4 separate regions of the Homo sapiens genome follow, and all the other regions are reported to be linked to region 3. Evidence: microRNA targets listed by miRTarBase, many of them from high-throughput screens and not tested one by one. Region 3 holds a microRNA gene; each other region holds the end of a gene's coding sequence.
Evidence for each region. Region 3 holds the annotated microRNA hsa-miR-4677-5p (UUGUUCUUUGGUCUUUCAGCCA, at 2,455-2,476, shown strand). A microRNA usually pairs through its seed, bases 2 to 8, with sites in the 3' UTR of a target mRNA and lowers its output. Matches are read on the target gene's strand: a 7mer-m8 pairs with bases 2 to 8, a 7mer-A1 pairs with bases 2 to 7 and ends in A, and an 8mer does both.

Region 1 (4,256 bases), not on the chromosome of region 3:
CCGGCGGAGACGCTTTCCTCTGGAAGCCTCACACGAGGCTGCTGCCTCCCCCTCCCCGTGTCGCTCAGGTGAGCAATGATCAGCAGGAAGGAGGTCAAAGTCACACGTGCTGAGCCACTGACATCAGGGGCTGTCCCTCTCCCCGCACCCCTCTCCCAAGGGCTGGTCATGAGGGCTGCCCACCAAGACGGAGCGCAGCAGGCGGTCCCTCCAGCCCCAGCTGCGGGGACGCCACCCAGACTCGGCTGGGCCCAGGGAACCCCAGGATGCGCCAGGACGATGGGCGTTTAGGCACTGGCTTGGGAGACAGACCCGGCCCAGGCCCAGTTCCGCCTCCTGCTCGCTGCGTGAACTGGGGAAACCCCCTCCGAGGCTCGGCCACCGCGGAATCGCCGGCGCAGTCCCCGAGACGCACGCGGGCGCCCTGCAGCCGGGGCCGCCCCGCCGGAGCCTCCTCGGAGCCCGCAGCCCGCTCCCAGCCGAGGGGCTCCCAGGGCCAGAATCCCCGCGCGCCCAGGCTCGGCCGGACGGGGGCCACGCCGGGCCTCAGTTTCCCCGACTTTGGGCGCTGCCCCGCCCCCGTCCCGGGCCTCGGCTATCCGCTCCTCGGGACAGCGCCCCCTCCACGGGGAGAGCCCTGAAGCTGCCGACGCCACCCGCGCCTCACCTGCTGGGCGCACACCTTACCTGGCCGCGCGGACCCCGCCGTCGCCCGGGCGACTGCAGACTCGACGCTTCCGGCGGCTGCAGAACAAGAGCGCCGCGCGCCGGAAGTCCCGCCTCCTGAGGCGCGGGGCACGCCGGGACGGCCGCTGCGGCCTGCCGGGACTAGAGAGGCGAACGGCTCGATGCTGCCCTCGCGCGGCCGCCCTGGGGGCCGCCTCCGCGCGCTCTGGAGGGGCGCGGGTGGACGCGGGACCTCAAGGCAGGGGACAGACAGGGACAGGCACCCGGCCACCTGGTCACGATCCGGAAGACCGGCCCTTACTGGCTGTGACCTTCGGCCATCGCTGGACCTCTCTGTGCTTGTTTCATCCTCTGTTAACGGACATGTTGGGGTTTGGTTAAGCAACGGATGAGAAAGTCTACGTGAAAGGCTTTTTCCCCAGCCTGCCCTGCATGCTCAGGATCGCCGAGGCCAGGCCGATCTCCAGGCACGTGCAGGAGACTGAGGCCAGAGGGTGGGGGCCCGCACCACACAAACTCGCTTCCCTGGTCACCTGTGCACACCCTCTGGGGTCTCCTGGCCTGGAGAGCTGCCCCGGGGCCCTCCCCTAAGTGGGCATTCATTCCTTCAGGAACGTGCCAGGGCTAACTCGGCCGGGAGCTGGGCAGGGGCCTACAGTTCCTGGCTCCTGAGAGCTTCTAAGTATCGGTGCTGCAAAGACATCCTGGGCCCAGCCAGTTGAGGGGGCCTCCACTCCAGCCTGGGGTGAGCTAGGGGCATCAGCTGGAGAACTATAAAGAGGGTTTGCCCTGCCTACCTAGGAGGTGGGCTTTTGGTGGCAAAGGGCTAGGCCCAGGTGAGGCCAAACTGGGAGCTAGGGATTGGCAAGAAACAGATGGAGGGGATGGAACCAGGCGGCTGGGGGCTCCTCGAGCGCCTCGTTTCAGTCCCTGCATCGGGCTTGAAATCTGGAGGCAGAAGGCAGGCACTAAATACCGCGCCACAAATTGTATTTTTAAACTTCTTACTATCAAACGCTTCAAACACAGACATCAAAAGAGAGGGGTGCGCAAAACCCACATGCCCATCCCCACCGCGCTTCCCTGGGCCCCACCTGCTCCATGAGCTGCTGGCATGAGGGCCAGGGGACCACCCCACTTCACACGCATCTGGTGGATGGGACCCGCCTGGCGATCTGGCCTTTGTGACCCCCACCCCATCAAATGCTGTCTCTCCCAAAGGGCCTCAGGGAAGGCCTGTGGCCTGAGGCATCCTCCCCAGATGCCCCCATCCTGCTGCTACAGGGCTCCCAGAGCTGCCTATACACTCAGAACCTCATTCCGGCACTTCCCAACCACAGCACCCTGTCTCAAGTCAGCTCTGCCAACAGAATCCAGAGCCTGCTTTCACCAACCAGCAGGAGCAGGAGGCGCATAGGGCTACGCAGCAGGACCGCTCCACAGTGACTGCTGGAAAGCTCTGGCCTTCACCTGTAGCTAAGGCTAGGGGTCTAGCAATTCAGACGCCTTGTTTGAAAAATTCAACCACATGATCCGAAAAGATGATCCAATGCTAGAATCCAGTCTGTCCAGCTCTGAAACGTGCAGCTGCGTGACTCACACGTCCATCACGTGTGGGTCCCAGTGGTCAGGCCCAGGCAGCAGTGGTCTGAGTCTGCCCCTAACCCCAAGGGCTGAGGACCTGGAGAGAATCTGCCAGCACAAGGCACCAGTTAGGGCAAGAGCAAGTGAGGTGTGGAAGCCCACGGCGTTCTCCAAGGACTGGCTAAGTCAGCAGAGAAGAGACAGTGCGGTGAACTACAGAATTTATTAAATAAGAAAGCTATCAATTGGAACAGGAGGAAAAAAAAGTTTTAAAAAAAATCTATAGGAAAATAGTCAAAAAAGCATTTAGTGCTCATCGCCGTCCCTCTGAGGGGGGCCGTCAGAAAGGCAACTGGGACCTGACAGACCCGGGCACATACTTGAAATTCCTGAATTCTAACCTGCATTGTACAAAATGCCACTTGAAACGTCCACCAGAACCCCCAGCCAAAGAGGCACATCTGGACAGCTTCACAGCACGGAACGTGTGACCTTGGTCCCCGTGGGTCCCGGAGGAGGACAGCAGCAGCCACGCGGTGGCCCCTGCGCACTCAGGCCATGACTGCAGGGACCACCCACTGGGGCCACAAGAGTGACCCGGGAGCCAGAGGGAGCCCTGAGCATCGGCGGAAGGCACAGGTCCCTGCCCGGGGTGGCCATCTCAGAGGCACATTTAGTGTTTGTTCTACTTATGAAATCAAGGACAACCAATTGTACTTATCTTACAACTGATGTTCTGGGATGGGACTGGAAAACATTGATTCCAGAACCACTCTTTTTCTTAAAATCACTGGCTTTTATGACAATGTCTTCCAAGAGCTCATTAGAATCTATAAGATCGCAGGAATTTCGCCAAGAAGGGCTGCATAGAAACCACAGAGACAACTCGGCCAGGGCTGCTCCCATTGTGGTGGCCAAGAACTGGCTGAGGGCACGACACTGGACTCTTGCGATCAACACTTTACTCTGGGTGAAGACTGCATATTTAAGGACACAACTGCACATTTAGATCGAGCGGTGGTGACCTCAGGGTATACACGGAGCTTCATGCTGAGAACACCCAGGGGTCCTCAAGAGTCTTCCTCCTCGTCTTTAACTTCAGAAATTCTGTCTATAGATTTAAGGATTTCGGCAACAAGATTCAGTGTCTCAGCTCCGGAAACCAGTTGCCTGAAAACAAGCATGGATATCAGGATGGGTGGCAGCAGCTACTCAGCAGCAACAGGGTTCTGGGGGGAGAAAGGGGAGGGGTTGGTAGGGGGAAAAAGGGAGGGGTTCCAAGGGGTAGGGAAAGGGGAGAGGTTCTGAGTGGGAGGAAGGCGAGGGTTTCCAGGGGGAAGAATGGGGAGGGTTTCCACAGGGGGTGGGGGGCAGAAAGGGGAGGGGTTGGTAGGCAGAAAAAGGGGAGAGGTTCTGAGGGGGAGAAAGGGGAGGAATTCCGGGGGTGGGGGTGGGGAAGGAAGGGGAGGGTTTCCAGAGCGGGGAGGGATTCCACAGGGGAAGGGTTCTGGCGGGGAGAAAGGTAAGGGGTTCCAGGGAGAAAGGGACAGAATTCTGGGGGGAGAAACAGAAGGGGTCCCAGGGAGCAAGGGGTGGGGTTTGCCGGGGGGAGAAAGGGACAGGGTTCCAGGGAGCAAGGGGTGGGGTTTGCCGGGGGAGAAAGGGACAGGGTCCCAGGGAGCAAGGGGTGGGGTTTGCCGGGGAAGAAAGGGACAGGGTTCCTGGGAGCAAGGGGTGGGGTTTGCCGGGGGAAGAAAGGGACAGGGTTCCTGGGAGAAAGGGAGGGGCTGGGGGAGAACCACAGGTTTTCCACTCCTAGCTCCTCTTGGAGGAGACCCACACCTGACTTCACAGGAGACGGCTCCCTTGTTCACAGGGAGTGCTCTGGGGGCCAACACCGCCCTGCAGAGCTCAGCCCAATGGGTGGCAGACACTCACCACTGTCACAGTCATGGTGGCTGGCGTGTCCCCAGCCAGGCACAGCA
Region 2 (4,256 bases), not on the chromosome of region 3:
GTGTGGAACCGGCACCCAGCAGTGTCTCGAGCGTTCATTTCTGACATCCACTTATCTCCTTGCTAAAATCACCAGGCCGTGGGACAATTGCATAAGATTATGAGGTGTGAATGTGTCTTGTTTTGTGAACTCTCTTGTCCTGAGCAAACATTAGTTGGGGTTCCAGGCTCCCACCTCCCAGCTAGCCTCAGTGGTCAAACACACTAAATGGGTCTGTGGTTAACATGACCGGCTTTCTCCCACATATCTAAGGACCCAGCACCTCCCTCTGTGCCAAGGGCTTGGAGTGGTGCTTTGCACATCTAAGCCCTTGTCTCACACCTGCTATTATCATGATTCCTCAAGGCTCGTCCCTGGCCTCCTGGGCTCGCCTCACCCCATCCCACCCCCTCCTGTTTCTGGATGTCGGAATGGACTGGTTCCTCCCTGCGAGCCCTTCACCCTTGCAGCTTGGTGAACTGTGGGGTTGGTGTTGCCCTAACTATGACATCTCCCCAAGTCCTTTGGGCACAGCTCCGTCCACAGTGCTCCCATACCAAGCCACCGTCAAAGCCCTCAACCTGTGAACTGCTTCTCCCAGCCCTCCTTAGAGGCAGCCCAAGGGGTTCAGGTTCAAATTCACTTTCTGTTGCTTCCAAACTGTGAAACTGATGTTTGCAGTTCTGGGGCTTGGAGTGCCTGAACTTGAGGTCAGGCAAGGAGCCCTCCAAGAAGAGCCTGGGATTTTAAACAGGAACTGGGATTACAAACCAGGCTCCCAGCCCCAAACTTTCCCCATAGACTTGGGAGTCGGATGGTTTTGTAACCTGCTCCACCTAGCCCACCTTGAGCACAAACCTCACTTCTGTGGACCTCAATGTGTGCTTTTAGAAATGGGTCTAGCACCTTCTGTGGGGTACTGTGGATGAGAGCAAGATGTGAGTGTGTGAAGAACTGACTCAACGCTGGTTCCAGGACAGCACTGGGGAAACAGAAGCGAAGCTGTGGGGCAGACGGGGGCGGAAGAGGGGCACCGTCTGGCCAGGCTGCTTCCCTCTCACCTCATTTGGGTGAGCAGTGGCCACCAGCCAACTCTTGGTGACAAAGGAGGGAGCAGGGATTTGAGATTTGTTCCTCAATTTCGACCCTCTCCACCTCCCTCCTTCCCTAGGTCCAGCCCCTCAGCCTCTGCCTTCAGCAAGTAAATCCTTGAGGTCAAGCCCACATTGCTGTCGCTGCTACTGACAGAAACCATCGAGACCAGTGGGGCTTGGGACTGAACTGACTTCGAGGCTTTGAAGGCATGCCCGGCCAGTTGTCCAGTTGCCCAGGGCTGGGAGGGGACGTGGTCAGGGCCACGCTGCAGGTCCCAGGTTGAAGTGAGGTTATCTGTGTCCAGCAATCTGCATAGCCCTCGAGCCACCATCAGGAGACACTGGCATTAGGGAGGTGGAGCTTATAGGAATCCTCCGCTTTGTGGCGGTGGGGGATGAGTGTCGCTGTCTGTTCCCCACATCCCAGGCTCCCACAGGGAAAGCACAACCAGGCCCCCAAAAGGAAAAGGAGGGGCAAAGCATTTCCCATTCGCGAACCACGGTATCAGCAACTGCTCCTGAGATCCCAGACCGCCCCAGGTCCTTGGCAAACCAGGCTACGATGCCTGCTGCCCCTGAATTCCTCAGGGCAGGGCAACCCCCAACCAGTGTCTTGCCCATAGGGATCGGACAGCCCAAAGCTGCTCCCCACCTCTAAAAACAGGCGTCATAACAATCCCCACCTTCCCAAAGGTTATTGTGAGGTCTAAATGGGATGGGGCAGGTCCAGTGTTTACCAGATGCCGGCCCCTGGCAAGTACTGGCCACACTGGCGCTGCACTGGAGACTGGGGTGCCAAATGCCAGCAGCTTCCCAGCAAAAAATAATAACAAGAGCAAGCGCTTATATAACACTTCTTGCGTGCCAGGCACTGTGGGACGCTGTACATGTATCCACTCACATCCATCTACATCCTCAACTCTCAGGAATGCCATCCAGGGCTGGATGGGAGTAGGGGGTGCGGTGAGAAGCCGGAAGGGGCAAAGGGATCAGTGGGCAGGGAAGAGGAGCCTGTCCCAGGGAATCAGGGCTAGCAGCCCCACGTTTGTGCCTGGGCTCAGCCACCTTGAGCAGGCAGGTGAGGTGGGCTCAGTGTCCAAGTCTGGGCAAAGAGAGCAAGTGATGAGCCTCCCATCCTCAGGAAAGGTAATCAAAGTGTGGGAACCCCTCCCCCACCTCTCTCCACCTGGCCTGGCCTCTCCCCTCCTGCTGGCCAGGGACACACAAACACAGACTCGCCCACACACCCAGGCTCCCCTCTTTAAAATACACATGTATACACAAACTGTGTTTTAAACAACCCACCCCACTACACTGACCAAAAGCATCTGCCCTGACTCGGGCTCAGCAGGACCAAGACCTGAACCCCCTCCTCCTACAGTCACAGGCCTGCCTACCTAGTCCCCAAACACAGGGCAGGGGTCACAGACCTCCCAGCCCTTCCAAACCCAAGCCTGACACTCGGGACCAGCCAGAGGCTCCGGAATCTCTTCTCAAGCAGGGTTCCCAGCCACCCGTCCCGGCGCCTAGGGGCTCTGAGTCAGCCTGAATGCCTGACCCATTACTCTTCTCCCCTTTCCCCCGGGGCTGGAACCCCATCTCAAGCAGACCCTGTGTGTGTGGGAGGGGGAGTAGCAGAGGAGGCAGAAAAACCAGCTGCAACACCCCCACCCAACCACCAAAACCTCCAAAAATAACAGCAGCCCCCCACACACAACCCCCTACACACCAGAAACGCAAAAACAAAATCCTACAAATCCAAAATAAAGTAAAAAAATAAAAAACAAAAGCCAATTACTGCCCCCAAAAGGCTTTGTAACCATTCTCAAAAAAAAGTTTATTAAAAGTGTTCTTAATGCTTGAAACGGAAAAGATTCCCAAAATATACAGACGCCTCTTTTCTCATAGAAATAGATTATTTTTTATAATACAAAAAAAGACCAAAAAACAAAACAAAACAAAACATCAACAGCAACAAGCCCGTAGGAACATCTTTAAGCGATTACTCAGGGCCCGGCTGACAGTTACACGTGGGTTGCGTCAGTCCCGTGTACACACGCGTTCAGCCATGTTTAAACCGATTGCATCAACTTCGAAACCGGCCCGCCCGCCGGCGCCTGGAGAGGGGCAGAGGGAGAAGCAGAGAGTTTATCATTCATCTGTACACATAGACGTTTCTTCTTTAAATAACACCACGGGCGGGAGCCCCATCTGCATGTGCGGTTGGTTTGGACAAAAATATAGATATATATATATAATAAAATATTAAAATTACCGACGGGCTCCCCGCGCTGCCAAGTGCCCCAGTGCCAAAGTTTTGCCGGCGCCGCCGGGGGCGGGGGCGAGGGCGCGGGCGCGGGCGCTCCCCGGAGTCTCAGCCCCGGCCGGCAGGGGGACGCGCGCGGGGGCCGCGCTAGCAGTGGCCGGAGGAGGCGAGCAGGGGCTCGGGCAGCTGCTTGAACAAGTTCCGCAGGGTGCTGAGCTCGCGCGACAGCTGCTCCACCTTCTTCTGCAGCCGCTCGTTCTCGGCCGTGAGCTCCAGGACCTTGTGCTGCGTCTCCAGGTTGCGCATCTTGGCCTTGTCGCGGCTCTTGCGCACGGCGATGTTGTTGCGCTCGCGCCGGATCTTGTACTCGTCGCTGTGCTTGTCCACGGTCTTCTTGGCCTTGCTCTTGACCTGCGAGGGCGCCGGCGCGGCCCCCGCGTAGCAGGCGGTCGGGGGCGCCTTGGCGTCAGCGGGGCTCGGCGTGCCGGGCGGGCTGGACGAGGAGGACGTGGAGAGGCTCCCGCTGCTGCCGCTCGGCACCGCCTGGTAGCCGAGGTAAGCGCGCAGCGCGTACGGGAAGCCCGCCGCCATGCCTGCGCCGCCGCCCGGCGCCCCGGCCTCCTCCTTCCGCTTGCAGTCCGCGGGCTCGAAGCCCGGCTCCGCCTTGAGCTCGGCGGGCGGCGGCGGCGGCGGGGGCGGTGGGTGCAGGGGCGCGAAGCAGCCGGGGTGCAGCGCGCCCTTGGCGGCCCCCAGGCGCCCCAGGCTCACGTAGCCGTACTCGGCCGGCTTCTTGCAGTTCTTGCCCCCGTAGTCGTCGGAGAAGAGGTCGGAGAGGAAGTCGTGGTGCTGCCCGGAGGAGGCGGGCGCGGGGGCGGGCGCGGGCGGAGCCGCCTCGAAGGTGTCCGTGGCCGTGGCGG
Region 3 (4,256 bases):
ATATCTATCAGCAGACAAAAATTCCTTTATACATTTCCTTTTAAAGAGCATAACTGATGAAGTCTTTAAAAGAAAACTTTGTAATATAGAGTGAATATTTAACTGTATCAATGTGAATGAATAATAACATAGCTTAACATTTTAACTACTAACTTTACCTATTTAAAGGTTAGATGATAGTGCATTTTGGTTGATAATATGCAATTGAAACTGTTATATAAAATAATCTTGGGCACATTACTTAAATTCCTTAGTTATGCATTTATTTATCTGTAATTTCAAGTTGTTAGAATCAATAATCCCTGGTGTTGCTTCTGAATCTTAACAAGCTACGTTGAATAGTCTAATAGAAAATGGCATTCTTAGAAAAGTTTTGTTGTATTTTATCTATATGACCTCTAGGGGGCACCAAAAGATCTAATTGCAGGCATTGCCTGGTAGATTCCAGCAGGTAATCATCCAGTTTTTTACAATCTAACAGGTGTGTGGAGAAATGCGCTATCAGCTGAATAAAACCAACATGGAGAAGGATGAGGCAGAAAAGGAGCACAGAGAGTTCAGAGCAAAAACTAACAGGGATCTTGAAATTAAAGATCAGGTAAGAGAGGACACAGCATAATTGCAGCAATTATAGATATGAGTAACATTCTTTCTCAAGTTGATGTTGTTTTATTCCTAATTTATTTATTTGTATTGTTTCTAACTAATGGGATGATCCAGTTTACACTGTTAGGAAAATTTCTTTTATAGTTGCCTAAAATTATCACCTTTCACATGAATGGTGAGAATACAACAGCATGCATATAAAATTCCAATCTGACAGGTCATAAATATACATTTGGATATGTGTATCTATTACTTACAAAAGTAAAAAGAAATGTTCTAATGCACAGTTTGAACCTAAAATATACATACATAAAGTTCTTGAAAGATGCCAACTTGAATCCAATTTTAAATGAAAAAGTTTAAAATTCGTAAGATGAGATGAGTTGATATGTAAATATGTCAATCAAATTGATTGTTGGCAGAGTGAAACCAGTTTTAACTAAGATAACCATGAATACGTTTGTTCATGAAGCCTAAATACAGTGACATTAGAAATGTTAGTGGATAAAAGCTGCGTACTTTAATTTCAGTTTGAACAGATGTTTTATGTTATATCTTTATTGAGATGAAGTAGATAACTCCAATTTTAGTTGACAACATGGATAAAGTTTTTAGAGAGGCAGTTCTAATAGGCTGACTTTTGATTTTCTATTTTTATGTTACAGTACAGGACCTTGAAGGTTTTCATTCTTTGTATTCAATGAAAGCAGGTTGTTTATTCAATTAAAATAGTAAGACTGGGTTCTTAGTGTCAATATTTTAAAATAATTGTTTTAGAATTTAGAAGTAGGTCGCTCCAAATAAGTTTTTTTTCAAATATGTTTCTAGTTCGAGGTTTTTCATCATATTTTCCAACATATTTTCTCTTTTGAGCCAATGAAGTCTTTACAACAAATGATGCAAAGACAATTGGGAAAAGTATTGAAAATGAAAGTGATAATGAAGACTAGAACAAAAAGCTTTTCAAGTCATAACTGAAATCCTTAGTACTAAATTAAAATCCTGGCAACCAAAGTAAAATTCTGCTTTTGTACCACTATATTTGGTGTTGTAATGGGTTTTACATTTTCAGAAGACTTTTAATTATTAACATGTACAAATAATGAAACATTTTATTGCATCCAGTTGGGGGCGTGCCTGATAGTGGAATGGAAAATGCTTTCTGTCAGGGACTGAAGGCCTAGGTCTACTAAGTTTATCACAGATAACTTTTCTTTCCTGATATATTGTAATTTTTTAAAAAGGAATCAATATATTGGCATACTTTTGGCCTTTCGTATTATTCTACAGCATTCTGACAGCATAATATTTTGGACTAACTGCAAAAATACATCAGGAAAGAGTCTCAGTTATTTAAAATTCCATTATAATTTTCTAGAGGAAAAAAGATCAGGGACAATAGGAGTATAATATCACTTGTAAAGGAATAACTTGTTTAGAAGCATTTGCAATATTAGAAGTATTTGCAGTATTAAATCTCATTTTAATTAATCCGTGATGGTATGGAGGCTAAAGTTGCAGGATTTACAAGGAGCAGTTTTCATTTGTAAACGTTTTCTGATAATAGTGAAACAATAGTAGTTTTCATAATGACGTTTAGTGGTATGTTTTTAGATAGAGATGTGCCTTTTTAGGAGGTCACAGCTTTAGGAATAAAACCTCTGAACAGTTACAAGATGTTTGTGATGTGTTGTGAAGTGATGTGCTTGTTACCATTTTTTTTTCCCAGACGGAATGTGAGGAAATCTTATAGGTACTCTTTTTAACTGTTTTGTATTGAACAGACAGTTTCAGAAAAGAAGTCGTGGTGTCTCATTCCATGGATGATTTGGAGTAGCAAAGCAGCAATTGTTCTTTGGTCTTTCAGCCATGACCTGACCTTCTGTCTGTGAGACCAAAGAACTACTTTGCTTGGCCACCATCTGCACTCAAGAGAGAAATTTACATTTAACTTTTAAAAGCGGGGCATGTTGAGCATTTATCTGAAATACCTACAATAATATAAAGTAGATTAAATGTTTAAGTGTTGTGTATCTTACAATTCAGCATCACAAGCAGGCTATCTGTAGGTTTGCAAACAAGGTGTTCTTCATAATATAGTCATTTTATTCATATTTTAGTTCATCTGACCACTTGATACATTTTTAAAGTGGGTGGGAAACTGTGAGATTGGAATGTGTGAGAACAACAGCTTTTTTGATGTATACAAAATAGGGCAAATGGTTAACCACCAAAATAATTTTCCTTGTGACCTGAGCCTTGGCTCTGGCATAATTAGAAGGAAAGGTTAGGAGAGTAACAATGGCAGTCGCTTCCACCCACTTTCTTCTTTTCTTCTTTATATTGTGTCAGGAACCGATGGGCGGATTATCCTTCCCATCAACTCCTTTGTATCTCTTCAGCTTAGAGAATTCCTGTCAGCCTCAGAGGATGCTTCTTGCACCAGAAAAAGAGGCATTTGGTATGGAGGAGAATGTGAAATATGCTCTTTGATTTTTATGAGAAATTTTTTTAGGCAATGGTTATACACACACACACACTCGATCAGGGGAATTTAAAAACATGTATGAGGGTATAGGGAATATTGTAATGAGTCCTCACATTTCCATCACCTACACTCATCATTTTGCCCGTCCTCTTCCTCAGTCCTATTCCATCACTCATCATTTTGCCAGTCCCCTTCCTCAATCCTATTCCATCACTCATCATTTTGCCAGTCCTCCTCCTCAATCCTATTCCATCTATCTCACTTTTTTCTCTCTACTTCTGTCCTCATCGTCACCTTCATCTTCTTTGTCATGTTTTTTCTGCTCCACCTTCTCATCTTCATCTTCTTCTGTCTTCTTCCTCTACCTCTTTTTCTTCTTTTGCAGAAGTATTTTAAATGGATCTCAGACCTTATGTTATTTTACTCATAAATACCCATGTGGATCTATGAAGGATATTTTTACATACTATGTCATTATCATACCTAACAATGTTAACAATACTTCTTTAATATCAAATAACACCCAGCCTATATTCACATTTCTTTGTCTCAAAAATGTTGATTTTACAGTTGGTTTATTCAAATTAGGAGAACAAGTATGTTTTTGTATGTCCAATTTTCTGGTGTTACCCTTTTTAATAGGAAATAAACAGAACTCTTAGTAAAATTTCATCTTTCTTTGTTGTTGTCTGTTAAATTTTGTACATAATGTTTTGATTATGCTTTATTTTTATAAAATGCCTCATTGTCATTCTAAAGAGGTATAAATTAATCCTACAGCAAAGTATGTGAAGGAAATGGCTACCACGCAGCATTCCTGATAATCATATCCCAAAAGGAGCTTCCTCGCATCCGAAACCCCAAATTCAGCATTAATTTCACAGCCTTGTATTTAAGATTTGGACATGTTGCAGGAGGCCCTAACATGACAAGGATGAGCTGACCTGAAATGAGTGATGCAGAAATAGAGTTTTTTTGTCAACTTCCCTTTTGGTAAATTAATCTGAGAAGACGATTCTTTATAGCCGCTAACCTTTGATTAGGGCCCAGTGCAAAGTGAAAATACAGGACCCTTTTGTTCAGAAAGCAGGAAAGAAGTGATATTAAAAAGAACTAAAATATAAAACATTTTCCTTTCTTCTTCAGTCTCTCTCTCCTTGCC
Region 4 (4,243 bases), not on the chromosome of region 3:
ACACAGTACTTTTGCTTCAGTTGTGTTTGCAGCAATAATTTTTACCTAAACAATATTCAAAAACCAAAAAAAAAAAAAACTCCAAAAAGGTCTTTGTATTATTTCTTCTTTTAAACCACATTCCAAAGGGATGCTTTTCAAACTGAAGTCTGCCATCTATTAGGAGGCCACAAAGTAACTTAGTGTCTGTGTCTAGTATTTTTAAAAATAATAAAACAGAAGATGCCAGCATGCACACTTAGGAAAAACAAGTACTGTCTTGTTAAATTTTTGCTTATACGTATCTGAGAGACAGAGAGAGAGAGAGAGAGAGAGAGAGAGTGTGTGTGTGTGTGTGTGTGTAATGGGTTATTTCTTACTGTGGTCAAAAAGTTGAAAGCCACTGTAAGTAGGCTTCTGTCTGCCAGTAAATTAACCAGATGCTAACAGCATTTATTCTTCCAGGAACTCTGGGTTAAGCTGTCCAGACCACAAGTAGGTGCTGTTCAGTCCTTTTATGGAAAAAATTAGAGAAATCAAGTCTAAATAATTCAAGTAATTAAATAAAATACATGCTATCAATTATTGATGCTACATTGTGGGTTATAAGAAATTGATCTACCAATAACTGCACAACAGAGAAAGAAAATATCCATTTCTTAATTCAACATTCATCAGAATAATTACTGCCCTCTATAAAACTGAAATGGAATTAAACTATAAATACCCTTAAGTTTTAGCCATGATAATATTTAAGATGGAAAAAACAAAAGAACAAATAAACCCCACATATAAATGCTTATAAACCAAATATGAAATCACTTTTTGTACAACTTTTAATTTCTAAGACATTTAAAAAGTCACACTAAAAGTATCTCATAGAAACAAAGACTAACAATTTGTAAACAAAACAATCTGTAAACAAAAATCAATTACTAGTGTGTCCAAATGTTATTTTTAAAAGTTAACATTATACCAGTTTTTTCAAGTTTAAAAAGTCGGTGCTGCATCTATGTTCACATTAAAAAAAAAAACTTGTAAGAATTCTGCCTTTATGCATTAAATAACGTGCTACCAACAAAACTAGCACATAAGAGCCTGTAAATGATGAAAACCTGTGTCCCTGGCAGACGAGGTCATCACTGAGGCTGCAGGGAGGGCCATGGGCACCCAGCAGATGGGGAGGCCGCACTGCCGCTGAGAGCAGGTACACGTGCGCCTTTAACACATCTGAGAGCAAAACGCGAGAGGCTCCGTCCATCTCTACTAACCAGCACCTTAGTGCAGCAATTTAAGGAGCTAACATTAGTGTGTATGTGTGTACAAATTTCATGTAAAGCCTCATATTTAGAGGTCTATTTTTACAGAGAATGTACATAAAGCTACGTAAATAGTAAATCTAAGAAGTATCTTGGAAAATCAGTAAAAATTAATACAAATGTTATAATCTGAAAACTTATAATTGTAAAATAATTTATTTAAGTATTGCAGAACCAATTAATAAGAATCTGCAAGTTTTCCCCAAGAAACTCTGGAACCATAGTGCCTAATGCCCTTTAAAATCGATACTAAAGGAGAGAGAATAAAAGGACTGCTTGATGTGACAGTCACTGGTGCATCCCTATCCAGTCAGAAACAAAACTGTAGCTCCAGAATTGACCTGATGATGAGCATCTGCAGCTCTGCCTTCCAGGGTCTATCTCCTCTCTTTCACTGGCGTGCAGGAACTGCAGTAAAATGAGGACCCCCAGAGCGACTGTCCTTACCAGGACTCAGAACGTTTGGCCTCCGTATTCTGGCATCCATTTCTGGAGTTCGTCATATAAAGCAGCCTCCGACCTAGCTCCAATGGAAGCACCTGCATTTGGAGTCAGTCTCTCCAGAGGCAGATGCTTGGGCATGTGCTCAGGAAGAGCCTCGAGGAACCGTGATTACGCAGCAGCCCAAGGCTGTAACAATCTATTTGTTCTCAAGGCATATGAGTCCCAGGTTCGAAGCCGTCCTTCCACCCCATGCATATCCTTTGCTTCAACAGCAGTGAGGATGCCTCCAGGAAGTGTATTGTACTCAGGGCTTACAAATCCAAAACTGGCTTAAGTCCTCGGATGGAGAGAAACTTCCAAATGAACAAAAAGTTGAGCTAAACACTGAAAAGTTTAGTATTTTACTTAAAAATTTTCAGACATTTTCCAAGTATCTAGGAACTCTTTGGATGTGCCTGAAAGTGGTGTAAGTGAGAAGTGATATTACTCTACTCCTGAGTTTCTTTCTGTTCTTCCCTTCACTTGGTCTGCTCAAAGTATGGACTCCAAGCTTCACTAAAAATCAAACCTGGCAATTAATACTTCAATAGGCATAACAATGAAATTGGAAAAGAGCTGAATTTTATTAACTTTTTAGGTATGTCGATTTTATGCTGAGAAATTCACCAGTACTATACTGGTGGTATTTACTGAAGCTTGTTTAGAATCACAAAATGAATGTTCTTTTATTTTAAAACCAAGCTGCATTTTAGAAAGATGTGAAGCTCGGAAGGAAATGCAGACGTATAAATAAGGGGGAAGTGTACTCAACAAAGGTTGTAAATATACAGATTAAAGTTTCTTATTATTTTGGTTTAAAGTGGAAATTTCTGATGTCAAATAGACACAGCCTGCGTTTCATAAATTTCTCCCAGAAAACCTTTAAATGTAACAATTTGAAAAAAATGTTTTACTTTTGTCTGAACACAGACCATCTATTTTCATACACACAGTGCATGTGAACATATTTATATAGCAGACTGCATAACTACGAATTGTGTGCAAATGGGCCCATCTCCTATTTTTGCATGCACAGATTTCGGTATTCTATCCTAGTGGATGGTTGACACAGAGTGCAATTTCATAGTTTTTATTCAGTGGACTTAAAGCCAAGAAACCATCCCAATAATTATTTACAATTTAATAACTGAATGATTATCAGATCGTGTTATACTGCAAAACTGTTCTTACACCATGAATGCTGATGCTGTGAACTTTGGATGTTAAACTGGTAAAAGCTGGAGGCTTCAAATGGCATATGCAAATGTAACCAAAGCCTGAGGACTATGAAGAAAGAGGAGTTTCTACCACTCGGCATTTATAGTTTTTATATGCATTGCAGAAGCATGGGGAATTAAGTGATCTCTGAAAAAAATGCTTTAAAAAACTGAGTATACATATAGCCTATAAGGTAAAAATCCAAGTTACAAGTGTATTAAACACTGGCAACTATGTTATCAGAGGGAATACTGAATTATATATATACATAAACTGTCATTAAACTGTGATTACATGATACTTCCTACCACAGCTTATTAGACTGTACAACAGAAGATATTCCTGTGGCTCTCTAAGGCTCCAGGTTTAAAAGAATTTAGTATTTTCCCCTTGGCTCAAAGTCTAATCAGTATCATTCTATAACATAAATCAGAAACTACGCTTTTTGCTTTTAAGGAAATAAGAAACATAATTGCAACCATTACAGCTCCAACATACACTGCAAAAATGATATCTACAAGCAGTTGCCATTGCATTTGAAAAATGCATTTTCTGAATAAGCTTCACTTAGTACCAAGGATGCCTTTCAAGTCAGCTTCTACATTCTGAATAAAGTACATAATGGGATTTAAGTAAATCTTTAGAAGTCCCGGAGTTTGCCTTTTCTAACATTTTCATATCAGGTGAAAACAATTTTTTCATATGGGTGATTGTATTTACCAACATGAGCAAATGTCTACAGAAGAATGCGCTGTTCTATATGTCTGTAAGGAATCTGCACTTAACTGGAAACTACAGGGTCCATCAGAAAGTTAAATTTAAAAAAGATCAGCCATAGCCAAGTTCTTCGTAGATTATGAAAAAAAAATGGCACTGATAGGTCTAGGTTCTGAAGAGGGGCCACGGTTGAATGGAAATGCTTCTACATGGGACAGGAATGTCGTGAATCTGGAGTTCTCGGGTCTCTTGGTGGCAGAAGACGCCGTCTGTGCGTCTCACAGTGCTTTCTGATGCCCATTTACAGAAGGCTTGGCTGTTTCTGAATCCCTTGAAGTATTTGGTAAGTGAAGTTTATGAAGCCCTGCAAAAAAATTAAGAAAATGGTGAGAAATGATATATTGCTGAGTGGCTGGGAAAGGGTTAGGGTAGGGAGAAGAGGAGATTTACAAAGCTAAGTGTTATTTGGAAAGCTGTGAGGTGCTGGCCAGATCCCCTTGAGGAATGAATGATTTCTTCTCCCTACT

Region 1: the mRNA of ENTR1 is a reported target of hsa-miR-4677-5p. Seed matches in the 3' UTR shown: 7mer-A1 at 2,952-2,958.
Region 2: the mRNA of CEBPB is a reported target of hsa-miR-4677-5p. Seed matches in the 3' UTR shown: 7mer-m8 at 2,921-2,927.
Region 4: the mRNA of LMBR1 is a reported target of hsa-miR-4677-5p. Seed matches in the 3' UTR shown: 7mer-m8 at 2,964-2,970, 7mer-m8 at 2,461-2,467, 7mer-m8 at 2,250-2,256 and 7mer-A1 at 1,943-1,949.

The regions. Positions count from the first base shown.
Region 1 is chr9:136,399,447-136,403,702 of GRCh38, forward strand. ENTR1 (endosome associated trafficking regulator 1) reads right to left here. Exons shown (of 10, transcript NM_001039707.2): 10 at 2,476-3,441. The coding sequence ends at 3,342. SNAPC4 (small nuclear RNA activating complex polypeptide 4) reads right to left here and starts at 724. Exons shown (of 24, transcript NM_003086.4): 1 at 688-724. RefSeq lists silencers at 382-491, 562-691, 762-971, 1,122-1,171 and an enhancer at 937-1,873.
Region 2 is chr20:50,191,302-50,195,557 of GRCh38, reverse strand. It overlaps CEBPB (CCAAT enhancer binding protein beta), which reads right to left. Exons shown (of 1, transcript NM_005194.4): 1 at 2,890-4,256. The coding sequence ends at 3,487. It overlaps CEBPB-AS1 (CEBPB antisense RNA 1), which reads left to right and starts at 3,489. Exons shown (of 7, transcript NR_125739.1): 1 at 3,489-3,894; 2 at 4,136-4,256. RefSeq lists an enhancer at 1,460-2,021 and silencers at 3,386-3,495, 3,916-4,256.
Region 3 is chr1:243,343,734-243,347,989 of GRCh38, forward strand. MIR4677 (microRNA 4677) reads left to right here and starts at 2,443; the gene lies at 2,443-2,522. It overlaps SDCCAG8 (SHH signaling and ciliogenesis regulator SDCCAG8), which reads left to right. Exons shown (of 18, transcript NM_006642.5): 12 at 482-598.
Region 4 is chr7:156,680,084-156,684,326 of GRCh38, forward strand. LMBR1 (limb development membrane protein 1) reads right to left here. Exons shown (of 17, transcript NM_022458.4): 17 at 1-4,080. The coding sequence ends at 3,995. Among named protein-coding and RNA genes, the nearest start is that of RNF32-AS1, 22 kb to the left of the region's middle.